Homo sapiens: one gene and its partners. The protein of the gene in region 4 purifies or fractionates together with the protein of the main gene of each other region. This does not show direct contact. Each region holds a gene or a part of one and is shown on either strand. Other genes may lie near its edges. The genes, in order: CHERP, KIDINS220, RPS6KA3, FGFR2, CEP295, PKP4 and UBE4A.

The links.
Region 1: the proteins of FGFR2 (region 4) and CHERP purify together in Homo sapiens (affinity purification with mass spectrometry; 2 studies listed by BioGRID and IntAct, with this or other methods). This does not show direct contact.
Region 2: the proteins of FGFR2 (region 4) and KIDINS220 purify together in Homo sapiens (affinity purification with mass spectrometry; 2 studies listed by BioGRID and IntAct, with this or other methods). This does not show direct contact.
Region 3: the proteins of FGFR2 (region 4) and RPS6KA3 purify together in Homo sapiens (affinity purification with mass spectrometry; 4 studies listed by BioGRID and IntAct, with this or other methods). This does not show direct contact.
Region 5: the proteins of FGFR2 (region 4) and CEP295 purify together in Homo sapiens (affinity purification with mass spectrometry; 2 studies listed by BioGRID and IntAct, with this or other methods). This does not show direct contact.
Region 6: the proteins of FGFR2 (region 4) and PKP4 purify together in Homo sapiens (affinity purification with mass spectrometry; 2 studies listed by BioGRID and IntAct, with this or other methods). This does not show direct contact.
Region 7: the proteins of FGFR2 (region 4) and UBE4A purify together in Homo sapiens (affinity purification with mass spectrometry; 2 studies listed by BioGRID and IntAct, with this or other methods). This does not show direct contact.

The regions. Positions count from the first base shown.
Region 1 is NC_000019.10:16,525,438-16,528,937, forward strand, and holds part of CHERP (calcium homeostasis endoplasmic reticulum protein), read right to left. Parts: intron 2,819-3,500; coding exon 2,643-2,818; intron 241-2,642; coding exon 1-240. UniProt on the Homo sapiens protein: Involved in calcium homeostasis, growth and proliferation.
Region 2 is NC_000002.12:8,831,114-8,834,613, forward strand, and holds part of KIDINS220 (kinase D-interacting substrate of 220 kDa), read right to left. Parts: intron 1-3,500. UniProt on the Homo sapiens protein: Promotes a prolonged MAP-kinase signaling by neurotrophins through activation of a Rap1-dependent mechanism. Provides a docking site for the CRKL-C3G complex, resulting in Rap1-dependent sustained ERK activation.
Region 3 is NC_000023.11:20,260,410-20,263,909, forward strand, and holds part of RPS6KA3 (ribosomal protein S6 kinase alpha-3), read right to left. Parts: intron 1-3,500. UniProt on the Homo sapiens protein: Serine/threonine-protein kinase that acts downstream of ERK (MAPK1/ERK2 and MAPK3/ERK1) signaling and mediates mitogenic and stress-induced activation of the transcription factors CREB1, ETV1/ER81 and NR4A1/NUR77, regulates translation through RPS6 and EIF4B phosphorylation, and mediates cellular proliferation, survival, and differentiation by modulating mTOR signaling and repressing pro-apoptotic function of BAD and DAPK1.
Region 4 is NC_000010.11:121,591,945-121,595,444, forward strand, and holds part of FGFR2 (fibroblast growth factor receptor 2 isoform 1 precursor), read right to left. Parts: intron 2,315-3,500; exon of another isoform or gene 2,024-2,314; 5' UTR 1,931-2,023; coding exon of another isoform or gene 1,874-1,930; coding exon 1,765-1,873; intron 1-1,764. UniProt on the Homo sapiens protein: Tyrosine-protein kinase that acts as a cell-surface receptor for fibroblast growth factors and plays an essential role in the regulation of cell proliferation, differentiation, migration and apoptosis, and in the regulation of embryonic development.
Region 5 is NC_000011.10:93,668,182-93,671,681, reverse strand, and holds part of CEP295 (centrosomal protein of 295 kDa), read right to left. Parts: intron 2,875-3,500; coding exon 2,750-2,874; intron 2,006-2,749; coding exon 1,912-2,005; intron 1-1,911. UniProt on the Homo sapiens protein: Centriole-enriched microtubule-binding protein involved in centriole biogenesis.
Region 6 is NC_000002.12:158,463,452-158,466,951, reverse strand, and holds part of PKP4 (plakophilin-4), read right to left. Parts: intron 1-3,500. UniProt on the Homo sapiens protein: Plays a role as a regulator of Rho activity during cytokinesis. May play a role in junctional plaques.
Region 7 is NC_000011.10:118,366,100-118,369,599, forward strand, and holds part of UBE4A (ubiquitin conjugation factor E4 A), read left to right. Parts: intron 1-2,531; coding exon 2,532-2,705; intron 2,706-3,323; coding exon 3,324-3,436; intron 3,437-3,500.

The DNA of each region.
Region 1 (3,500 bases), on a different chromosome or scaffold from region 4:
GCGGAAGGGTGGCTCGCGCTGGCCCCCGCCCCAGGGCGGCTGCTCGTGCTGGCTGTTCCAGGGGCCCTCGAACTGGCTGTTCCAGGCGGCGTCGGGCTGGTTGTTCCAGGGCGCGTCGCGCTGGCCGTTCCAGCCGGGGTCACCGCGCTGCTCGCCCCACATGCCCTCATGGCTGTTGTTCCAGGGGGGGCAGTGGGGTGGGCCGCCCTGGTGGTGCGGGTAGGGTGGCTGCTCTGGCGGCTGCAAGGGAAGGGACAGGCTTGAGCCCTGCGTGGTCTAGGCCCTAGTGCTCGGCAGCATCACAGCGCTCGGCAGCATCACAGCGCTGGCTCAGACCATGGAGGCGCTGCCCTGGCCACGTTGAGGCGCCTCCTACGCTGACGCCTGCGAGGATGCTGGGCACCTGCTCTCAGCCCGCACCACATGCTGCTGCAAAATGACCAGACACCCAACCGCTGCACCCGCATCTCAGTCCCGGGGCTGTTTCTGCCGCTGGGGCGCGCTGCACCCGCACACAGGCCGCCCGCGCCACAAGGTGCTCCCCGCTACCACTGCCAGACAAACGCCAGCTCCCTCGCCCCTCAGGGGCAGGTGCAGAGGCACAGACGGTATCGCTTCTCAGGGCACCCCAGGCACCCATGGGGCGGGGCTCACTCTGACACCCCCTGCCCTGCCTCACTCCCCCTCTCCCCAAAAGCCGTCTGCTGGGCAGATACACTGCGGCACACACATCCTTGTCCTGGGGTCTGCTTCTGGGGACTTTCAAACCAAGCCAGCATCTTCCTGTAGACTGAAGACGGGAGGCTCTTCCCTCATCAGCTTCTGCTCTGGAGACTTAAAGCCAGGAGGGCAAACTCCAGCTTGGGCAGGGGAGGGGAGGAGCACAGAGGCCAATGAGAAGGCCGGTGTCTAGGGTCACAGCTGGGTAACTGCGCTGACCCCTACTAAGGGGAGGCTGGCCCAGGCTGCCACATTCACCAGGCTTCCAAGAGAAGCCAGAGAGCCAGATATTAAATATCAGGAACTACTTGTTTTTCTTTTTCTTAATTTGAGACAGTCTCGCTCTGTTGCCCAGGCTGGAGTGCAGTGGCGCGATCTTGGCTCACTGCAACTTCCACCTCCCGGGTTCAGGTGATTCTCCTGCCTCAGCTTCTCGAGTAGCTGGGATTATAGGCGCCTGGCACCATGCCCGGCTATTTTTTTATCTTTAGTAGAGGCGAGGTTTCACCACGTTGGCCAGGCTGGTCTCAAACTCCTGACCTCAAATGATCTGCCCACCTCAGCCTCCCAAAGTGTGGGATTACAGGCGTTAGCCACCACGCCCAGCCTTGCTTTTCTTTTTTAGAGACAAGGTCTCACTCTGTCACCCAGGCTGGAATGCAGTGGCATGACCATAGCTCAATGAAGCCTGAAGTCCTGGCTGAACCAATCTTCCTGCCTCAGACCACTGTGTAGCTGGGACGACAGGTGTGCACCACCATGCCAGCTTATTTTTATTCTTTGTAGAGATGGAGTCTTGCCTTGTTGCCCAGGCTGGTCCCAAACTCCTGGCCTCAAGCAATCTTCCTGCCTTGAGAAATTACTTTTAAACGTGTTAAGACCCCACATGGCCAAGTCAAGCAGGCCAGGCTGCTGTTTCTCAGTGTGGACTGCAGGATGCACTGCTGGCCTAGCGGGCACCCTCAGTGAGGGGCGTGCCCATTGTCCTGAGCCCAACCCTCTGGTCTGCAAAAAGACTGAGCCTGGAGACACTAAGGGCCTGTTTCCACACCTACAAAACAGGGACAAGAACTGCCCCCCCCAGCAGAGGGTACCTGCAAAACAGCCACCACCATCTGGCTCCTGGCCAGCACTTGGAGGTGGGAGCTGTCTTTATGGGGGTGTCCAATCTTTTGTGAGGTTCAATTTCGTGTCCTGAAGCTGGGGATGGGAGGCTCAAAGCCACAACCACCAAGTCTCAGTCCAGAGCCAGTCTCCTTGCCATCCTTACACCTGTCCCTGCAGACAGGGAGTCACCTGGAAAGGCCACGCTGCGAAGCCAACCAGGCCCCACGGGCAAGGGGGAAAGTCACGCCCTGGAAGACCCGGGGCTGTGCCTCAGTGCTGAAAGTGGACCCAGCACGCTGCAGGGCATTTCACAGCCATGCTGTGCCACATAAGGTGGCCCCTGCCTTGGCCCAGGGGTATGTGACCCATAGCAAAGCTGCATCTGAGGCCTCCCAGGGGCAACACGGCTGACATTTCTGACATTCCCCCTTTCCTTACAAAAGCACCTTGTTCTTTCCAGGATGACAAAACACTGACACTCAACTAGCTTAACCTGTTTAAGGAGGACAGGAAACAGAACACCCTGCCGTGCCTTGCAGCGTTAAACTCCCCTGCACTCGCAGGACAATGGTGATCTATACTACAGAGAAGCCCAAACCATCAAAGCTCGGGGAAGGGACGTGAAGACCTGTCACTTGACCTGTCCCGGAGCCACAGGAAGACAGGGCTGTCACTAACCCAGCATAAGCTCTGCCACAGAATATCCCTCATTGTTCCCCAGTAAGCCACTCAACGCCCACCAACTGGCATAGGGGAGGCTACCCCATCAGGCCAAGTGTGCCCCATCTGCTCCCACCCCAGGTTCCAATCAATACCTGCTGCTGGCCCCAAGGAGCCACGGGGTGAGGCTGGTCAAACCAAGGGGGCTTGTTTGGTGGGATCTGGTCGTGTGGCCCGGGGCCCCGGGGGCCGGCAGCTGCAGGATCCTGGACCCCTCCTGGAGCTTCGTACTCTGAAGAGCCAGGCATCTGGATGGGAGGCTTGCTGTCATCTAAATCCAAGTGACAGGCAGTTAGAGCAGGCCTGGCAGCAGGAGGCGCTGTCTCCTCTCCACACTACCCCAGAGCAAACCAGGCTACCGCTTTTAGTGCCCAGTGGATGATCGCTTCAGGACCCACTAAAACCATGACTATCACTGGCTTCCAGGAAGGGGACAGGGCGAGGGGAGGTTTCGACCTTGAACATGACACACATCTGTCCTTTTCAAAGCTTTACAAGAAACAGGCCTCACTTCTGCCTTCTTGGTTTGCTGAAGAATTTCTATCCACACTGAATTTGATTAGACATCTTTACTGTATCTAATTAAAAGGTCATTTCCCCACATCTGTTATTTTCTATTCTATACAATCCTCATATTCCTACAACAAATCTTCTTTGATCAGAATGTAATTTTAAAATCCTTTGCTAGGCCGGGTGCGGTGGCTCACGCCTGTAATCCCAGCACTTTGGGAGGCTGAGGTGGGTGGATCCCAAGGTCAGGAGATCGAGACCATCCTGGCTAACACGGTGAAACCCCGTCTCTACTAAAAATACAAAAAAGTAGCTGGGCATGGTTGCGTGCGCCTGTAGTCCTAGCTACTCAGGAGGCTGAGGTAGGAGAATGGCGTGAACCCAGGAAGCGGAGCTTGCAGTGAGCTGAGATCACGCCACTGCACTCCAGCCTGGGCGACAGA
Region 2 (3,500 bases), on a different chromosome or scaffold from region 4:
TATTCAAGGAACTTACGCCTTCTAAGGCTTTTAAAGCCATTGTAAAGATGCAAATACACAATTCCTACGGAAAGCTTTGCTCTCCACTGAGCAGAGTGAAAACTCAGTAAGTTCAATTCTTGATTATGATGAGGGCATGCAGATTCTTCACAATCTGGCCCCATCTTACCATTCCAGCCTTATCTTTCTCCCCTCCTCAGCCCCATCCCTCCCACCCTCTACATAGTCACATCTACACCTCCAGCTCCAGCCAGACTGATCTACTTGCAGCTCCTTCACTGCCCCACACTTTGTTCTTTCCAGACCTTTGCACTTAATGCCCCCTCTGCTTAGAAAGTCCATTCTCCACGTATATATGCCTGAACAGCTCCTACCCATCCTTAAGAACATGGCTCTAACAGATCTTCTGGAAGCCTTCATTGACTGGCTGCTTACCCCAAGCTGGGCCAGGCCCTGGGCTCCTCCACACCTGTGTATACATCTAGTTGTAGACTGCTCACATCACACTCAACTCTCCTCTCCATTTTACTCACTCTCTCCACATCTCCCTTAGACTAGAAGTTCTTGCAGCAGGATCTGCTTTATATCTAGCACAATGCCTACACAACAGGAGGTGAGAGAGAAAAGCAGCCCCTGACTGTCGGGAACTGACCCGGCACACACAGCCAGACTTGGTGTTCTAACATAAATGCAACAATTTCAAAGAATGCCAACATCAAACAAGGTCACTCTGTCACCAGGATATGAAGACAAAAATAAGACTACTCTGGAATCATATCTGAACATAGACAAAAACATGAACATCACCCAAACCACAAAATGCCCAAACATCTTCCTATCGTGGCTAATATGAAGCATTGCTGCTTCTTTATCAATTACAGCTTTAGCCTTACTCCATACCTCTTGCCTTTTCGTTAAGATTTTAAATATCCAATTGCAGAATTCCCACTCCTCCTTATTCCTGAAGCACCCGAGACTGAGCAAAGCTTTGCTTCCTTGAACTCTTCCCCGAATCACCTAACATCATCTCGAATCTTCTAAGTCCTTTCTAACAACCTGTTACAGAGACCCCCAACGTTCCCTAGGACAGGCATTCTCCTTCATTGCAGGGAGTTAATAAGACCAACTTTGTTCAACTAGAGGTATGTTCCTGGCAGTCTTTGACTAGAGGGCACTGACAGTGTTTAATAAATTTCACTGAATAATTGATTATTAAATGTCATAAGATGTTTGTAAGCACATATATAAGTGCCTAGAAATTACAAAATAAAATTAGAACATTAAATCCACATCTGTTGATACACACAATAGTAAAACCAATGACACGCTGTCATGTTTAAGAGCACGTGTGTAGTATAATTCTACTTGATAAAATAAATAAGACCCCCATATATGTATCTATCCAGTGTGTACACATGAACAAAAAGAAAAGTGTGGAAGGACACACACCTGGCTGTAAAATTCGTTATCTTACCATGTAGGACTAAAAGGAGGAGATGATTAGCTTTGCCTTCACGCGTCTTTGTGCTATATTGTTTTACTTGATGTATTAAGTCTACGTTCATTTTCAATAGAAAAAAAAATGTTTCATCACAGGAGGAAAACTACAGCTTCTCATCTTTCACATTTCAGTTCAACGTTCACTTCCAAAAGCCCTTTCGGCTTAAAACGAAGCTGTCTAGTGGTCAAAAGTATGGACCCTAGAGCCAGACTACCTTGGTTTGACTCCTGACTTTACTACTGACCATTATATCATCCCAGGCTAGTTTCTTTTTTTTTTCCTTAATTTTTTTAACTAATACATAATAATTGTACATGTTTATGGGGTATGTGTAATATTTGGATTACATGCATAGGATGTGTGATGATCAAATCAGAGTATTTAGGATATCCATCACCTCAAACTTTTCTCATTTCTTGGTGCTGGGAACATCTCAAATCTTATCTTCTAGCTACTTTAAAATATACCATAAAAAATAAAATACACAATAAACTGTTAAGCATAGTACCATGCTGCTGAACACTACAGCTTACTCCTTCTACCTAACTGTATGTCTGTACTTATTAACCAGCCTCTCTTTATCACTCCCTGTCCCCTGGGGTAGTTTCTTCACCTCAGTGTCTGAGTTTCCCCATCTTCAAATAACTGCACAATTACATGCAATGGGATTAAAATAATACCTAACCCATATGAAGCCAATAAATATTAGCTGTTTTACATAATAACAGAATATGATCATTTCTTAACCACCCTTTCTTGGTTGATTCTCATAACCTGGATTGTTCTCTATTATGGAATCTTTTTTATTCCTTCATAACACTTTACTAAACTTGTAATTTACATATTTATGTTTTTTAAATTTGTCTTTTTTTTTTTTTTTTTTAGCTACACCTGCTGGAATGGGACATATTTACCTGATTAATAGCTGTCTCTCCCACTAGGATATAAGCTTTTAAAAGGAATGAATTATTTTCTTTCGTTCTATACCAAATACCCAACACTTAGCTTAATAGCTGGCCCATACAAGACACTATATTTCTTGAATAAATGGACATCAGTTGAATCTAATGTCCACAGCACTTTCTCTCTAATGGGAATATAAGGCTATACATTCTTTTGCACAATTAGCAAAAAAATTAATGTCTTGCCACCCGTTTTGAAAATGGCAGATGTAGCCAACAGCAATGTCAGAACAAAAAATTTATGTTGTAGTAAGTCCATTTTTAGAACTTGCCAATTTAATAGGCAAAATCTCTAAATGTATTCAAAATGCTTTCACCAAAAGGCCAATCGGTTAATAGACGCACCCTATAACTTTTCTCCGGTTACAGACACAGTGCATGAAAGCAACAATAGTGCCATGCTGCCCAAGGCTTACTTATTTCTTATCCTCCAGATACGACACAGTAAGTTCCTGAATGTGGCCCCTCCCATGGTTCTCTATCTCCAGCCCCTCTTCTCCTCCTCCCACTTAAGTCTCCAGCAACAATCACCCCTGTGCAGTCCCCAGAGCCTACCCTGGTGCTGACATTCCTGGGCCTGGGTGGCAGCGCTTGCCCCCTCCACACAGAGGCCTAAGTGGTCCTCCTGAATCGTGTCTTCTTACAACCATTCTGTGCTCAAAACATCCCAACGGTTGTCCTCTCACTCAAAATCCCAGATCCCTACCAGGGCCAAGGCCTTGCTTGATCTATTCCACCCCTTCTCCACCTCCCTAAGCTCAACTCTTGCTGCTCCTTCTCCTTGACTCTACTCAGGCCACAGTGACTTTCTGTACATACGTCACCTGATCAGAGCTTCTCTGACCACCGTGTATAAATGGTGTATACCATTTATACGTGTATAAAACAGCCCTCTCCCCCTCTACTATATCCCCCTTCCACAGCCCTACTTTAAAGGTCTTCTTTATAACACCTAGCATCACTCCACATACCACATACTTTGTTTTTGGTCTGCTTCCCCTAGCCAAACAAATGTAGCTCAATGAGAATAAAGACTA
Region 3 (3,500 bases), on a different chromosome or scaffold from region 4:
TGTGAACAAACTTTCCTTTCTTCCTTCTTCCACATATATTCTTCACAATGTTGTTTTTTCCCTTTAAAGACAATACTGAGGAAGGGATCAATGCAAAAAGGGTAAGATTAAAGAGATTTCTGTTCCCCTTGCCCTTTCAATTACGTTCAGATATTACCATGACTATTTAAACTGATCAATCAAATAAATCACTTTTAATTGCTTTGCTGGATTCTAAAAAATTACCCCAGAGGAAAAACAAAGAACTGAGACAGTTCTTTAAGAGGGATGATTCATTGTAACTATTGTTTATTAAAAACTTAAACCATGTACTGAACCAAGTACTTTACATATATTATCATTTCATTTAATTCTCACCAAAACTCTATGAGGTAGACATTATTTTCATCCCTATTTTACAAATTAGGATGTTGAAGTATAGAGATATTAAATATAACTTGCATAGGGTTACAAAGTTATTAAGTGGCAGAGCCAGGACTCAAACACAGGTCTTTATGGCTCCAGAGCTTATGTTCTTTAACACTTTGCTATTAATCCAAATAACCCCACAAAGTCCCTTCTAAGTTTTAAGAATGAGCAAAAACCAAATTACTTAATTACTAGTAACTAATGTATTTGCTTAAAATAGGTCACATGACAAAAAGACAAATACTGCATGTTCTTACTCACACGTGGGACTCATAGGTAGGGAGTTTCTACTCAGAATGAGAGTTACTAGAGGATAGGACGAGTGTGGGGGTTACAGAGGGGGTGGGGGTGAAGAAAGGTTGGTTAATGGGCACAGTACATACAATTGGATAGAAGGAATAAGTTCTAACAATGGATAGCAGAGTAGAGTAGGGTGACTATAGTTAATAACAATGTTTTATATATTTCAGAATAGTTAAAAGAGAGGATTTGAAATGTTCCCAACACACAGAAATGATTAATGGATATCCCAAATACCCTGATGTGATCATTACACATTCTATGCATGGAACAAAATATCACATGACCCCATAAAAATGTACAAATATTATTTATCAATTGAAAAGTAAACATTTTGGTGTGCCAAAGTTTATCTTTCAACAGTTTGTTTAACCAAAGAGACAACTTCCTCCTATGTTTCTGTACATTAGGGATTAATAAATATTGGCTTTTAAATTGTACAACTTGATAAACTGTCAAAAAATAAATAGGCCAAATGTATTAAAATAATCATAATGTGCTATATGGATACATTTTATCCTGAACCTGTTTTATAAAACACATACACACACAGACACACACACATTTGCGTTTGTTTTGCTAAATCATGACAAAACTTAATGATTAAATATGGTAGTTTTTACTGAACGATTAAATAGGGTAGTTTTTCTTTGTTTTAATGCTTTTTGGTGTTTAACTGATAAACTAGAATATCTGAGATCTGATATCTCCAGGTTAATGATACAGGTCACTGTATTAATTCCAAAAGAACACACTGATGGGAGTGGGGTGGAAGGAAGACATTGAATGCTAGGTATTACAATTTAGATACTTGTTTTTTTCTATTTATGTGAATTGGGGAACGGGATGTATAATATATGTACTTGCACAGCTGCATTTCAATGCTTTAAAATGTGTTATCCACCAAAGCACATAAACAACTGAGCACTATCACACGCAGGCATTACCAGTGAGACCACCACCATGTCAGTGTGTCATTCATTATAATCTGAACCGTTGGGTCTAAAGCACCCATTCTGCACTGGGTCAACCAGGCAAGTGTGACCTTACCCATCATTCACAGCCTGGCAGATCACATGTCCCTGAGCATTGAACTGTAGAGCAAATCTTGTTAATTATCACAATGGTATGAATTTCTTAGTAATAAAAATTTTTAAAAACTTTAGGACAATTGTTCTGCAACTCAGACTTCTAGATAAGTGATCTGTATTTTTGGTCATTCTATAATTTAGCAAATGTCAAGTCCTTGGTCAGGAGTACACAGTCCAATTATGCCACCTGTCTTATTAAAAATAAGATATACTTATTGTGGTTTCCAGAAATGTATACTAAAGAGAAGACAAAGTCTGCCTATATTTGCTCCTGCAATTAGATAAAAGTTTTATTAATAAAATTTAAATGCATCCAGCAAGTTTCACATTTTGAATCTACCCCATTACTACAGGATCAAGCTGCCAAAATAAAGCAAAGTTTTCTAGATTTTACAAAACTGACATCCTCTATCATAATCACTGAAAACAATGAAGTGTTCAGTAATGGGTCACAGTTACTTGACAGTTGACATGTAACAATACCTGTCCTCTCCTCAGATCTTCACTTAGGGGAAAGAAAAAAACCTGAAAGGTGGTAAAAATAAAACAGGAAAAGGAAAAGAAACAATAAAACATTTTTTTTCAAAATCAATGATTATACTTTAATAGAGCATTTTCCCTATAGATAAAATAAGAAACCTATATAATATTGATATAGTAGAAATACTATAAAATCTATGTACTATACTATAGAATACTACATAATCTTTGAGGTTAAAAATGGCTGCACATTCACTAAACATGATCTCCCACACAAAGGCCTCATTTTCTATAATAAAATACTTATATAGTTGATTTTTTAAATATTTTTCAGTGCATCATGGGTACCTGTTATTTAAAGGAAGTCGAGGTAGCTATTTTCATACAACACATTGTTTAATACACATTGTATACAACACATTATATTGTGGCTATTTTATATAACACATTTCTATAAAACAAAAATAACCTCCATAATTTTATCATTTTGAAAACTTCATATTTAGATTTACTATCATTTATACCTACTCTATTGCAGTGGAGAAAAAAGTATCACTCTAGGTCAGGCTTATGATCCACTAAATGCTGTCTCTGACAGCACTGGCAAAGAATTTGTACAACAGAAGAGCCATAATTCCTACCTATCCATCCTCTAAACAGTCAAATATTCAAAAGCATATTAGCATCTTTAAGTAACTCACTAAAGAGTTCACCTAGACCAGTTAGGAAGCTAGTTTGTTTTTTATCTTGTACCAACCCTTACTTTGCTTACATAGTACTTCCTTTATTATCCTAAATTTGCTTCTTTAAACATTTGGCCTAGTTCTAGCCTATCATGTTCTGACCCACGTTTGAGTTTAACCACAAGGGTTTTTTTGTTTTGAACACCATGAGATTCGTGTGAGGTCTTAAAGCAGGAAGGCCAGTGTAAAGGAACTGAAGAAACTGCCTGTGTTTTTACTGAGGCACTGAGGTCTTTTTAAATTGTTCATATTTTAATGAGATTAAAATGATAAAAAACAGATAAGATTCATAATCATCCTATTCCTGACTTTCATGATTCATTCAGCAGATATTTATTAAGTCCACAATATGTCAGGGCCAGGCATTGTGCTGAATGCTGAGGATTCAGAGAGGGGGGGAAAAATGTCTGCTTTCAAGAATTCACAGTGTACTAGGGATGAGACCATAAATGTAAACTCCTACACAGACCAATCCTGA
Region 4 (3,500 bases):
TCCCTGCATGTATACACAATTTTAAACTTCCTTCAAGAATTAAATACAGTAAAACAAATCCTCTGGGACCATTTTACACTTTATGTTGAAATAAACTCACAATAACGCTGCCCTGAAAAGCCAAAATGAAAAATGACAGTTTTTCCCTAACCTGGGTTGCTCCTAAAGCCCACACCGTAGGAAATCCCAGCTCAGCTTCCTCAGTTTTTGCCGAGCCACGCACTCAAGGGAAAACCAGCAATCACGGAAACATCCATTTTAATTATTAGCAAAATTAAAGACGTACAGGCATGACTTTCAGAAACCAGGAACTTTTTCCCTCTTACATGAAAGCCCTGTAAAAATGCATCACCACTGCAAATTACACTCATCCTGGTGTCCCAGCACAAATCACCAAGAGGCAGTTCCATAATCGGCCTGTAGCTGTAGCTATACAAGCCTCAGACACAAACTCCTACCAGATTCCCTTCCCAGAGACGCAGGGAGATGTCACCACACCTGTTAATTATAGAGCTGCCATCCCTCTGTGTAACGAAAAGTTCCCCAGTCTCACACGATTGCTTCAGGTGATAAGTGCTTCGGTCCTCATCCTTCAATGACAAGTGCCTGGGGTCTTCCTGGGGAGCCCATGTCTCTCAGAACTCTCATCTCAGATGGACGCAACCCTCCTTCCTAAACTGTCCTGATCCAGCTAAGGAGGCTGGGCTCTCTGTCCTCTCCCAGCCTACCCCACTGGGTAAGTGTGCTGTTCATTCACCCCACGCACGAGATGTGTTCCCAGAGCAGCTCAGCTTACCCCAGACACCACTCGGACTGCTGCGGGTTCCTAAAGCCAGGCAGGCACCAGGTGGACTCTCCACAAACAGGTTCATTAAGTGGCGATGAGTGCTGGGATCTGCCGTTTTATTCTCGGATTACCACTCGAAAAATAACTCAGCTACCAATATTCCCTACTGATGACAGATTTCAGTGCAGCACCAAGTAGAGGCTTGGCTCACGTTGTCTCCAAAGGGCTGGGAGAGAGGTTCCAAATCTGCTAAGCTGAATAATTCAGCCTCATGTAGTCCTCGTAATTGGACTTACACCTTGAAAATTAAATTTCCAAAGCTGTGACACCGGCGCATGCCCTGTGATACTTGGAGGTTCTCGGAGCTGGAGGAGATCCCCTGGCACATTCACTTTCAAGTTTACCTAAACTAGAATCTGCCACTCTGTGATGATGCATTGCTTAAGTATTATGAATTACAATGGCTAAAAAAAAATTCTGAGATGTCAAGCCTCTCTCTCTGTGCTAAACTTCAGAAACTTCTTTTCTCCTTAAACAATGAAAATAAGATGTCAGCATTTCAGATGTTGGCAATTTCTTTTAGTGGTTCATCTTGTCCGAAAATAGCAATTCTTTACATTGTAAGCAGTAGGAATGATGCTGGGGGAGACTAGAGATGACATTCATCCTCCCAAGGTTCATCCCTTCCACAGCTCTCTCGGGCACTGGATAAAGGCCAACTCCCAGCTGTCTCCCTCACCCAGCACAGAGAAACACACACAGCAAGAAACCACCAAACTATACCATCCTGCCTGCAGTGCTGCGGCAAAGGACCTTCTCTCATCAGCTCTGCCTTGCCGGGAGCCAAGAGACCACGATCTGGTGCTCTTAGAAGCCCCATTTACAATGCAAGGGTAGCTGATTCTAAAACAGGCCTTAACAATCTGCCCCCAGACAAATCCCAAAACAAACCTGAAAAGTGAAATTAAATGACTTACCTTCTGGCTCTAATGTGGTATCCTCAACTAAACTGAAGGAGGGCCGGGCCAGGGACAAGGTTGCCATGGTGACCACGACCAGGCAGATGAAACGACCCCAGCTGACCATGGTTACGGTACCAATCCCCGGTCCTCTTCCATATCTCCATGTGGACGTTAATCCCATCTGCACACTTCCTCTACGGGCATGGACTACGCGCAATGCCTTCAGCCTGCGGTGGGCTCAGGAACCGAGGCGCTGCCGCTGCTGCTGCAGTCACTAAAGGAAAGAGATTGGCGAGTCAGGGAATCTTCCCCAATGCCAAATCACTCCAGCCCAAGTGGGATAAAACCATTTTTCAGCCTCTCAAATGTGCGCAAACAGAGTTCTTTTTCATTATCTGCTAAATCCTTCCATCCTCACCTCAGAGTCCCAGGTGATACCACCAGACCGGTCCACAGAAATGTGTGAGGCTAATCTTTTTAAAAGCATACTTTTAAGAAACAGAGATAAAACAGTAGCTACAGGACTCAGATACGTGCAGCCACTTCAGTGAGGCAATGTGTGCTCTCTTCTACTATCCACTATCGCCTCCACCGCCCTCAATGAGCAGAAGCAACGTGACCTTAGTTTCAAGGGCAACTACAAAAGCAAGTTAAAAATGCTCGGGTTGGCATAACCAACCTCGTTCCCTTCTCTTAGTCCAACTGGGCTTTAGAAAGCTAAACTGTTGGAGGAGTCTGCTCACAGCTCCGTATTTCTGCTGGGCTGGAGGTGAGCAGTCTCCCACCCTCACTGTCGCTCTTGGGAAGAAAGGAGACCAGCAAAATCAAAAGAATCCCAGGAAGGCTACAGAAAATTCCCACCAGTTTACACTTGTCAGGATTCATTTTCAAATGGAGAAGTGTCTTTCAGTCTTCCGCCAAGCAGCCACTTACGAAGAGTGAACACAACTGCAGCGCATTCAACGCAGCTGATCCAAAAAGGACTTCGAAGCCTGAATTCCCTTCCCCTGTGACTAAATGGCAGTCCAGGGCTGCTAAATGTCTTCAACCTCTGTAGAAGGGTGAGGAAACTGAGCAGATGCAAATTCTGATGAATAATGCAGGAATTTATTAATAATGATGATGTAAATTATGTAAATTATAGTCATGGTATGTGATTGGACCAATAACTTTCCATATGCAAACCTACTGGCTAAATTTTCAGAGTATAAGTTAGAAGAGGACACTCAACTTAATATTCTGTTCACCCATTTGATCCAAGGGAAAGAGAATTTTCCAAGAAAGCTTAATATATTCCAAGCAACTTTAAATTCACTCAGTACTCTCTGTGACTAAGGGTACAGTAAAATGCACAAACTTTAGAGAATGATTAAAACAATCACAAGAAGGGGCTCATCAATCTCAGGCTTCAGATTCTGTGAACCACAGGAATGAACCACATTTTCTAAGACTGGGGGTGGCAGGGAGGCCTTTAATACAAAAATCTCTAAACTCTACATTTTTTATGTACCCACTCGATGTTTCAAGTTATGTCATAGGATTTCAACACTGCTGGAGCCTCCCCAAATCTCATCATAAAAACTGCTCCTTTTAGCTTTGACTGAGGACAAAAATGGAGGAGGGAAAAGAATATGCCACATCATTTCCAAAGGAGGAATAAAGAAAACCTCTGCTTCAAAGATAGCACAGGTGAAACGGTGTGATTCACAGCAAAAGCAAGAAAAGTATGTGTGCAGTGTGTGTGTGTGTAC
Region 5 (3,500 bases), on a different chromosome or scaffold from region 4:
AAGACATTCAGAAACACTGCCTTATCCCAAACACCTTTATTGGCTTGGGTAATGTATTTTTCTAAAATAATGCCTTTTAGTGAAACAAGAATATAATCACCCAGATCTTAGTTTATAAGTACCACTTCTCCACTAAAAAGAATCAGGGGTCTTTGGAGATACCAGATACGGGACAGAGTAAATTAAGCCTAGGTCATTTGCTGGGGCACAGAGCAAGGAAATGCTCATGGAGTCACGGGGACGCAAGAAACAACTTCAAGTCTCCTGCTGACCAAATTTCAGATATTACGAACATCAGTGAGAAGAAAAAGAATGACTATAATTGACTATGTAATATTGAGTAAAAAACCCCCACAAGTTAACAGTGATAGTAACAAAAGAGAAAGGAAAAAAAAACCCATTTACCACCAATGGCATTGATTATTACCCCAACCCTTTACTCTGAAAACTGGCAGAGAGGAAAAACAAGGAATATATCCTGTTTTCCTAAAAGGAACGAGGCTGGGTGCAGTGGCTCACATCTGTAATCCTAGCACTTTGGGAGGCAGAGGTGGGTGGATCATCTGAGGTCAGGAGTTCGAGACCAGCCTGGCCAACATGGTGAAACCCCGTCTCTACTAAAAACAGAAAAATTAGCGGGGCATGGTGGCAGATGCCTATAATCCCAGCTACCTAGGAGGCTGAGGTGGGAGGATCGCTGGAACCCAGGAGGTAGAGGCTGCAGTGAGCCAAGATTGCACCACTGCACTCCAGCCTGGGTGACAGAGCAAGACTCTGCCTCAAAAGAAAAAAAGAACTAAATAGTTCATGCCCACTGATTAATTCATGCTTGTCAAAGCACTTACAGAGTTTTGTTTACTTTTTATAAATTTTTGACTTTGGCTTGTTATAAATACTAAGAATTAAGACAAAAATAATCAAAAGGCATCATGGATAATACATTGCCTGGCTTTTATCATGTCACTTTGTACCGAAGGAGTGACTGAAATACAACTTTTCCGTCTGAATTTTGTTGGATCAAATGTTACATGGTAGATGGCTCAACGTACAAGCAGGAAGGCTGACAAACTGAAAGGCCTAAGAAGTGAGTATCTGGTACTTATGCTTATACAGAATATACTTGTATGTACAACTATGTATTTCTGGGTTTACTTCTACTTCATTCTTCAGATAAAAATAACTAGGTAATTTTGACAATCATCCAAATAGCCATTTCAATAACTATAACAAGCTAATGTGGAGAACAAGTATTTTAAAAAATTTCTGCTTTAATTACATTTTTTTAAAAAAAATAAGCTTCAAATCACAAAAGCACACATTTTACTCCCATAAAAAATAGATCCTTATTATTTTATAATATTTTTTTCCTCTTTTCTTTTTTAAAATCACACCTGGATACTTTATAATCTTATGTAAATTTATTAACTTAACTGAAACTTATCTGTAAAATATTGACCATTTAAAATAAGCCAAATTCAGAGTGTGGGAAAGCCTAATGGACGAATAGTTTAGTTTTTTCCCCCAATAAATAAATAAAGGGTATTTTTTCAAAAGGCAGAATTATTAAAAGATTTTTCAAAACCAAAACCATTATAGTTTTCCAAACAACAAAATTTTTTTGACATCATTGAGGAAGGCTGAACAAATACTGGGTATTAAATAATATTGGAAACAATATTAGTATTATACTAAGAAAAAAGTCCTTATACATCAGAGATACATACTAAAGTATTTACAGGTGAAATGATATCTAGAATTATTTTAACATACTCCAGATATACTCCTGTACAAGTTTTTAATTGTACAAGAAAACTTGTACAATTAAGTTTAAGTGATAGTCATTCTGACCTCCACTGAATTATAATAGTAAAGAAGAATTATGACCTAGTTCCTCTTAATACTCAAACTCACCTCAAAAAGAGTTGGAGGAGGAGGTGGCAGACTTGTAATTTTGGCTGATCTCTCTTTTTCCACAAGCAGTGCTTCCTTTCGAGCTTTTATATGCCTTAAGAAACAAGAGATGTCATCAATTAATCTCTCAGTGATAATATTATAGTACAACAGGGTTAAAAATATGTAAGTCATAGGCTCAAGAAATCCTCTAGTCTGATTCCACAGGCTCAGTAAGCTTTACATGTGTAAAGAGTCTATACATATGTTAAGAAAATGTTTACAAATTGAGAGAGGCCTATCTAAAGACAGAAAGCTCTATGGTGGGGACCAACCCAAGAAACTTATAATGTTCTTTAGAGTGAAAAAAAAAAAAACAGAAATGTTGTTAAAAATGGCTGTTGCTAACTAGTAACAGGGCCCTTAATTTTTTACTTTGCTTCACTCACGTTTCCTGTGAATGGCCCTTTAATTTTTACAACATGCAAAAAATACTAATGACTTCCAGAGTCTACAACCTCTTTTAATGTTCTTAATCACATCAATTTTTATTTCATGTTTACATCGGAAACAGACATTGGTTGACATGCATTCTGAAGTAGCCATATATTTTTTCAGAAACTTAGTAACTGCTGCTAAACTCAACTCAAACTACAACTAGAAAAGAAAGCTCATTAGTTACTATGTTCACCTAAGCAAATCATTCCCTGTCCCCAACATTATTTTTAAATCAAGTTTAACAAATGCAATGAATATGCTACTATGTTTATTTAATATTTGCTTACACAGTATCCTATGTATCCTCTACTTTCAACCATGTTAGTTTCAGTTGAGATTATAGTAAAAATTATTACTTTACCAGGTTTTTTGTTTCAGTAATATTTCTTTTTGATTTTTCTGTACTTTCAAGGCTTCTTTATGCCTCAAATCTGCTTTTCTTTTCCTTTCTGCTGCCCGCTGTGCCAAAGCATCCAAATCAGGTTCCTAAAAATATATATTACTTAAAATGTCATGTTAAACAAGAATAATAGAAATGTGTCTCATATGATATCAGAAGTGATTTATCAATTTTGTCATCTTCTTTCTACATACTATAGCAGTGTTTCCCAGAGCATGACAACAGTACCACTGATGATATGCCATATTAGGGGGGACAAACACAAACATTTTAATGTAAAGTTAATGCAATCAATTAACATTATTACAAAAATATAAATAGGATATCGAACTACTTAGGACATGGTTAAAGTACGTAAAATATATAGTGATATGGGTAGTTTCCCAGTCAGGGCAAAAATTGTGAACATGGTATTCAAATAACAGAGGTTTGGGAAACATTGCATTAGGCACAAACTTAATGTGGCATGCATAAAACCACAAAAACCTGAGTCAGAACTTACGGCTATTACTAAAAACACAGACTAAAACCAAGGACCATGAAACAGATTGCCACAGTCTTAAGATATTTTCTTTCTCACTAGTTGTTATCAAAGATTTACCTTCTTTGTAACTAGCTTGTTTACTGTATGTGACTGATTCTGGGACTGTAGTATTTCCACATCATAAATCACAATAAATCAAAATAATGGGGCAGACTTACTGTGACTTTC
Region 6 (3,500 bases), on a different chromosome or scaffold from region 4:
ACTTCTGTCTTAACTCTTCAACTGAGTATACAAAGATATTACTGATTCACAAAAGGTACAGATACAGAAAGTTTGCTCAATATCACACTTTCAAAGCTTAGCTTAGTCTTGGTGCTTGATTGGTGCCTATTAGTAGTATGATAAAGAGCATTATGAAAACTCATCTCACTATGGTTATAATCCAGGCAATTAAGTTTAAAATGAATATGAACCAATCTGTTTAAAATCTTCTAATTAATTTCTTTTTGAAATGGAGTTTCGCTCTGTCACCCAGGCTGGAGTGCAGTGGTGCAATCTCTGCCCACTGCAACCTCTGCCTCACGGGTTCACGTGATTCTCTCACCTCAGCCTCCCAAGTAGCTGGGACTACAGGCGCCCGCCACCACGCCTGGCTAATTTTTTTTTTTTTGTATTTTTAGTAGAGATGGGGTTTCACCATGTTGTCCAGGCTGGTCTTGAACTCCTAATCTCAAGTGATCCACCTGCCTCAGCCTCCCAAAGTGCTGGGATTACAGGTGTGAGCCACTGCACCCAGCCGTTAATTTCTTTACTAAGGAATTTGGTATAATGAATTATTTATCTAGCAAGTTGTATTAGAAAAGCATTTTTTTAAAGTCTAAATAGTTTTTTCCTTTGAAACATGCAGGATAAATGGTATCAGGGTCTCAGACCAGTTTACAAAAGGACAGAGGATAGGTACTAGGCACAAACAGACACGATTATCCAAGAGTAGCAGGTGAAGGTGTTCAAAACTAGAATTCAAACTCATTCATTCACTTAAGGTATGTAGAACCACTGGAGGTCAAGATTTAAGTCCTGTAGAAAGATAAAGTCCCTGCTGTTGAGTAGCTTAGAGCAGGACTATTTTCCCATGGAACTGATATACTATAGTTACACTACAGGACGGGAGATTTATGGATTAATGTTGCTTCTGTGAAAAATTATATTCACAGTTCTAAATAATATTTTGGAAGACTGACACTTGCCGATATACTATCCGAAGATTTCAGACTGACACTTATTTTTCATCTGTTGACAGTCTGAATTAGACCTTTAACATCTGAGTTGTTTATCACAGGTCTCAGACTAATAGTATTAATAGTTCTTGTGAAGTCCAGTTGGATTTTGTGATTCCTTAGTCAGTGCCTTTTTTAAACAGACTTACTGCTTATGTAGTTGTCGACAAAATGACAGTAAGTGAAAAATTCCCATCAGTGCATCATTCTGAGATTCAAAGTAAGATTCAATGAGACCATTTATTCTAGCATACATCACGAGAGATTTTGAAACATTCTGTTTATTCATAACAATGGGAGGGAATATTTTCAACAGCAAGTTTGGGCTTATAAAGGCACACAAATTACATAGAGAATAAAAGAAAAGCACAAAACACAATAAACGAAAATACTGCTGCATGAAAAATAAAAATAAGAATGTAATAAAATGGCAGGTCTTACAGCATAAATTATGGTTTCTCATAAATCATGTATTGTCATTATGATTAATTATTTCACATAGGCTATATGGTAAAGTGTTTCAAGAGATACAGCCAAAATAATCAAGTTCATGATTAAAACTTATTTTGAAATCACTATTTATCTTTGGTGCAGACTTTTCCCAAAGAAAGCTAATGAGAGTGGTTAGTGCATATCTCTAGAATCGGGTAATTTATCATGTAATACACAATTAAGCAAGTAGAAGTATGAGCTACAACCTAGTTATTTTATAGCTCATCCTTAATACTTATGAAACAATGTTACATGCTTATTTATATACCAACATTTCTAGGACAATCTTCTCTACCTCATGTGTCTTATCTTTCCCAACCAGACTGAAAAATGTATCATGGATTCCTTAAAGACCGAGACTCCCATTACTGAATCTAACACAGACAGTAAGTATCCCTGGAGGAAGTCATCTTTTTGGCCATAAGGCCTATCAGTCTGATATGGAGTAGGGGACTAAAAAATGTTGGTTAAAATGAACTAAAATGAATCATTTCAAATAAGTAGTATCGTTTTAAATAAGTATGCAAAATGAAACACAATACTGCACACACAGCAGGACTCCAACAAATATCTAAAGTACTAATTGTCTACAGTCCCCTCACTTGCACCCCTAGTGGTATACAGGAATAAAGTTACCTTTAATTCATCAAACAGTCCCTGTTTCCCACTCAACTCAGGGTACAGGTGTCAGAACACATGATCCATTTCACTGCAAAGTGGTAAATAATGGTTTCTATTTTACATGAGTGTTTACAATTCTCATGAAGGTATGGGAACAACAGCCAGTTCTTCAAGGGTTTATTTTGATCGTGACATTGACAATTCATTTAATACTGCATACAATAGTAGTATAATTAATGCTTCCCTTTGCAAATAATGTGCTTATTGCATTAGCAAAGGGGAAGAGCTAACCTCAATATTTTTAAACAATTGTTTTATAGATAAATACATACTAGAGTTCTATACGGATTTTTTTTCTCCACAAAGGAAGAGAACAGGGTCTAGGAGAAACTTTCATCACTGAATTTTTAAATTACTTTTTATAGAAGAGCACAAATCCAAGTAAAAAATTCTCCTCATGAAATCTGCCACAATTTCTGAACACTGGTAGATTGTCTATATGTAAAAATTAGACTTGAATGAAAAGTCCCTCTATTCTATGAGATATGGATTGACGAGTTCCCTATGAACCTAAAGTATTCATACAAAATGTTTTCAGAGGAGCAACTCTGTCAGTTGTTTAACTTCTCTGAGGACAAATCAAACCATCTGAGCAAGTAAGAAGTGGATCTTTCTCACTGTAACAAGACTAGTCCCTTCTAACCACCATGCTAAATCCCCTTTCTTGTTTCTATCCAACTTCTGAAAAATGTAGTCTCAATCAGAGGTGAAGCCTCCAATGTGCACAGGGGACTGGTTGTAGACAAGTAAGTCCCAGAAGTCAGGGCTGTGACAAACTGCAGATGTGCAGCTCCATAAAGGCTCACTGCTCAGCTCCTGCCCCGAGGGGCCCCAGGGATCCTCACTCCTGGAGCACTTCACCACTACCGCACAAGACACGGAGCCACTGACTCAGCCACAGAGGGGTCACAGGTTTGTCTGGCTGCGACACATATTTTCAGGAGCTGAGAATTTCAAGTATACAACTTCAATTTTCCCTCCTTATCCCAGAGGGTAAATTGTCATAAATCCTTGGGAAGACAGCATATTCTTGCTGAGGAAAAAATGTAATGGCTTGATGTTCTAAGAGTTGCGAAATGTAAGTACTAGAGGGACTCTAGAGAGCATCTAGACCAACTCCCTCATTTTATAGACAAGAAAACTAAAGCCCACGAGAGTTACATGATGTGCTCATGGGACACACACCTGCATAGTGGCAAAGCCAGGACTAGAACTAGAGCCTCTTGATATCTATTTAACCACTGTCTGTTGATTTATATCATGTATATTCCAAACCCCCTTCCTCTTTTCTAGCCTTTCTTGATTTGGGAG
Region 7 (3,500 bases), on a different chromosome or scaffold from region 4:
GGCCTTTCAGTTAGAAAGGGCTGAAGAAAAAAGAGGTAAAGGCAAGACAGATAAGTGATTGATGCAAGGGAAAAACAAAATCAATGTTGATTTTTTTTAACATGGTATTTTCAGTCTCTGAAATCTCTCCCAGATTTCTATGATACGGGGCCAGAATGGGAAACTCTGGTTTAGAAGATTGTAGGGGAAAAAGCAGAGTGAAAAATAGGAAAAATAAGGAATGAGAAAGTATGATTTATGAGTATGTGGTTGAGGGAAATTTTGCTAAACAGATTCTTAGCTTCTGTCACCATTGGAGGTCAGAGAAAAACTCAACAGTATAGCAGCTGAGCAACAGAACGCTTGTCCTTCTGGCTATAAACAGACATAAATCTGGCTAGAGTTGGGAGCATTGCAGGCACATGCCCTTCTGTTACTATTTTGGCACCTCATCATCCTAGTTTGTTTACACTGAGTTTATCATGCCACCAGGTCCAACCTGTTTCCACTAGCAATTAGTACTTTGCCAAAACCTTTGGCTTCCTATGTTGAGCTTATACTCACCACACTGAAACAACTCTTACTTTGAGAGTTTTACCTGGACTTTCAGACTAGCCATTCTGTCAATAGAGAAAAGTACATATAGACTCATATGTGGCATATAGTGAATAACACTACTTTTATGTAGTCATTCAACATGAATGATGGGGCTGGGCGCAGTGGCTCGCGCCTGTAATCCCAGCTCCTTGGGAGGCCTAGGTGGGCAGATCACCGGAGGTCAGGAGTTCGAGACCAGCCTGGCCAACATGACAAAACCCCGTCTCTACTAAAAACACAAAAATTAGTCGGGCATGATGACAGGCGCCTATAATCCCAGCACTCTGGGAGGCCAAGGTGGGCGGATCACCTGAGGTCAGGAGTTTGAGACCAGCCTGGCCAACATGGTGAAACCCCATCTCTACTAAAAATACAAAAATTAGCCGGGCGTGGTGGTGGGCGCCTGTAGTCCCAGCTACTTGGCTGAGGCAGGAGAATCACTTGAACCTGGGAGGTAGAGGTTGCGGTGAGCCGAGATCACACCACTGCACTCCAGCCTGGGCGACAGAGTGAGAGTCCATCTCAAAAAAAAAAATCAAAGGATGGGAGCAGATTTTGAGGACAGAAGTTTAAAAAAAAAAAAATCGAAGGAATTTCATCAATAAGAAAAAAATAACAAGAAAGAATAAAAAGGTACAAAAGATGTGACATGCAACTTATAACCAAATGATTAAAAAATTTATTCTCATCAATCATTAGAGAAGTGCCAATTAAAACAACCATTAAATTGTTTTTTTACCTATGAAATTTGTGAAGATTCAAACAGGCACTCTCTCATATACTGTTGGGTTTGCATGTAAATCAGACAGTCTCTTTGAGGGTAACTTGGTAGTAAATGTTAACTTTTTTTTTTTTTTTTTTTTGAGACGAAGTCTTGCTCTGTCACCGAGGCTGGAGTGCAGTGCAACCTCTGCCTCCCGGGTTTAAGCAATTCTCCTGCCTCAGCCTCCCGAGTAGCTGGGACTACAGGTGTGTGCCACCACGCCTGGCTAATTTTTTGTATTAGTAGGGATGGGGTTTCACCATGTTAGCCAGGATGGTCTCAATCTCCTGACCTCGTGATCCGCCTGCCTCAGCCTCCCAAAGTGCTGGGATTACAGGTGTGAGCCACCGTGCCAGGCAGTAAATGTTAACTTTTTAAATGTTCAAGCTCTTTGATCCAGCAGTTCTGCTACTGTGAATTTATCCTATAGAAATACTCATACAAGTAAACAAAAAGAGTTAAGTTGTATTGTATTCAGTGCAGTATTTAAAATCATGAAATATTAGAAACAACCCTATTGTTCATCAGTTGAAAAGTAGCTACATAAACCACAGGGCATGCAAAAGATGTGATACAATACAGCTATTAAAAATAGTGAGGTAGGCCTCTAAATGGCCTAACAGGGAAAGGTGTTGGTGCTGATTAAAAGGCAAGCTGAAAAGAGCTATGTATAGTATCCCATTTTTTAAAAAAATTAAAAAGATAGTAATGAATATTAGCACCAGAAAAGAAAAAAATTCTTGAACACTGTTAAGTGTCTTTAGGGAATTGGTTCAGGAGACTTTCTATACTATATTTTTCTGTACAGTTAAGAACTATTAAAACAAATGTTATCTCTTAAAATCAGGGAGAAAAGCCATACATTTAAAATAATTAAAGGCATTTTGATCTATTAGGTAATTCTTTGTTCACTAGGATTCTGTAGAGAAGATAACTTTGCTATTTCTGGCAGTGTGGAGTATAATTATGGATAGAAATAAAACTTTTGCTTTGTAAAATGTGGTAGGATTTATAGCCAGGAATTTCAAAACCCTATATTTAACTTCCCTGACTTGAGATGTTCACTAATTAGATGATTAGCTTGTTTTACATCTGAAATTATCATCTTCTTGGTTACATTTATTATTTTTGGTAGCATGCTTGGTTCTCTCTTAAAGGGGTGTAACATTTAACAGTATACATTTTCTGGCAGATGAACTCCCAGCTAGCCCAGATGACTCGGATAATAGCGTGTCAGAGAGCCTGGATGAATTCGATTACTCTGTGGCTGAGATTAGCCGCTCATTCCGATCACAGCAGGAAATATGTGAGCAACTCAACATCAATCACATGATCCAAAGGATCTTCCTTATTACTCTGGACAACAGTGAGTTACAAACTTATAGCATTATTCTACCCTTCCTATTTGAGCTTGGGCTAGGGGCTTGCTCTTTGAAACTGGTTACAGCTAATGGTTAGATACAAACCTACTCACTGCACTCCCTGGAACTCAGGGTTTATATTTCAGTGAACCTTTTGGTATGACCTAAAAACAGTATTTAGATGCAGATCTAACTTTTGTTCCCATTTCAATACTGACTGCACTATATAGCTACTTGCCTTTACTACCTTAAAAAGGAAATGGGAAGGGTAGCCAAACCCATTTTCTTCTCAGAGGTAACCTAAATATTCAGATGGAAGCCTTCAGAGGCATCAGAGAGTGTTTGCCCTCTGTGCCCTGTCTGTGTTTAAACCCCAAGGTTGGTACTAATGTCTGGGATTTACTCTTTAAATGTCATGATGCTAGGTTTATAACAAATCCCATTCTCTGTGACTAGAGGGGGAAAAAAAAAGATTTGAATCTTTAGATGTTGCTTTGTGTATCAGGATCATTCTGGTATTACTTGAGTCAGATTTGCAGTTCAAGAGTGATGCTGTCAAGATCAGTTGTCTGTATAAAACAGAAGCATTATCCTTAACCTATCATATTAAAACCATTTCCCAGGTGATCCCAGCTTGAAAAGCGGGAATGGCATCCCTAGCCGTTGTGTGTATTTGGAAGAAATGGCAGTAGAGCTAGAAGATCAAGACTGGCTTGATATGAGCAATGTTGAGCAGGTAATATTCTTACGTTCCTAATGTGTGCCCTTAGCAAAAATTAGCTATGCGGCTGAATTCTGCT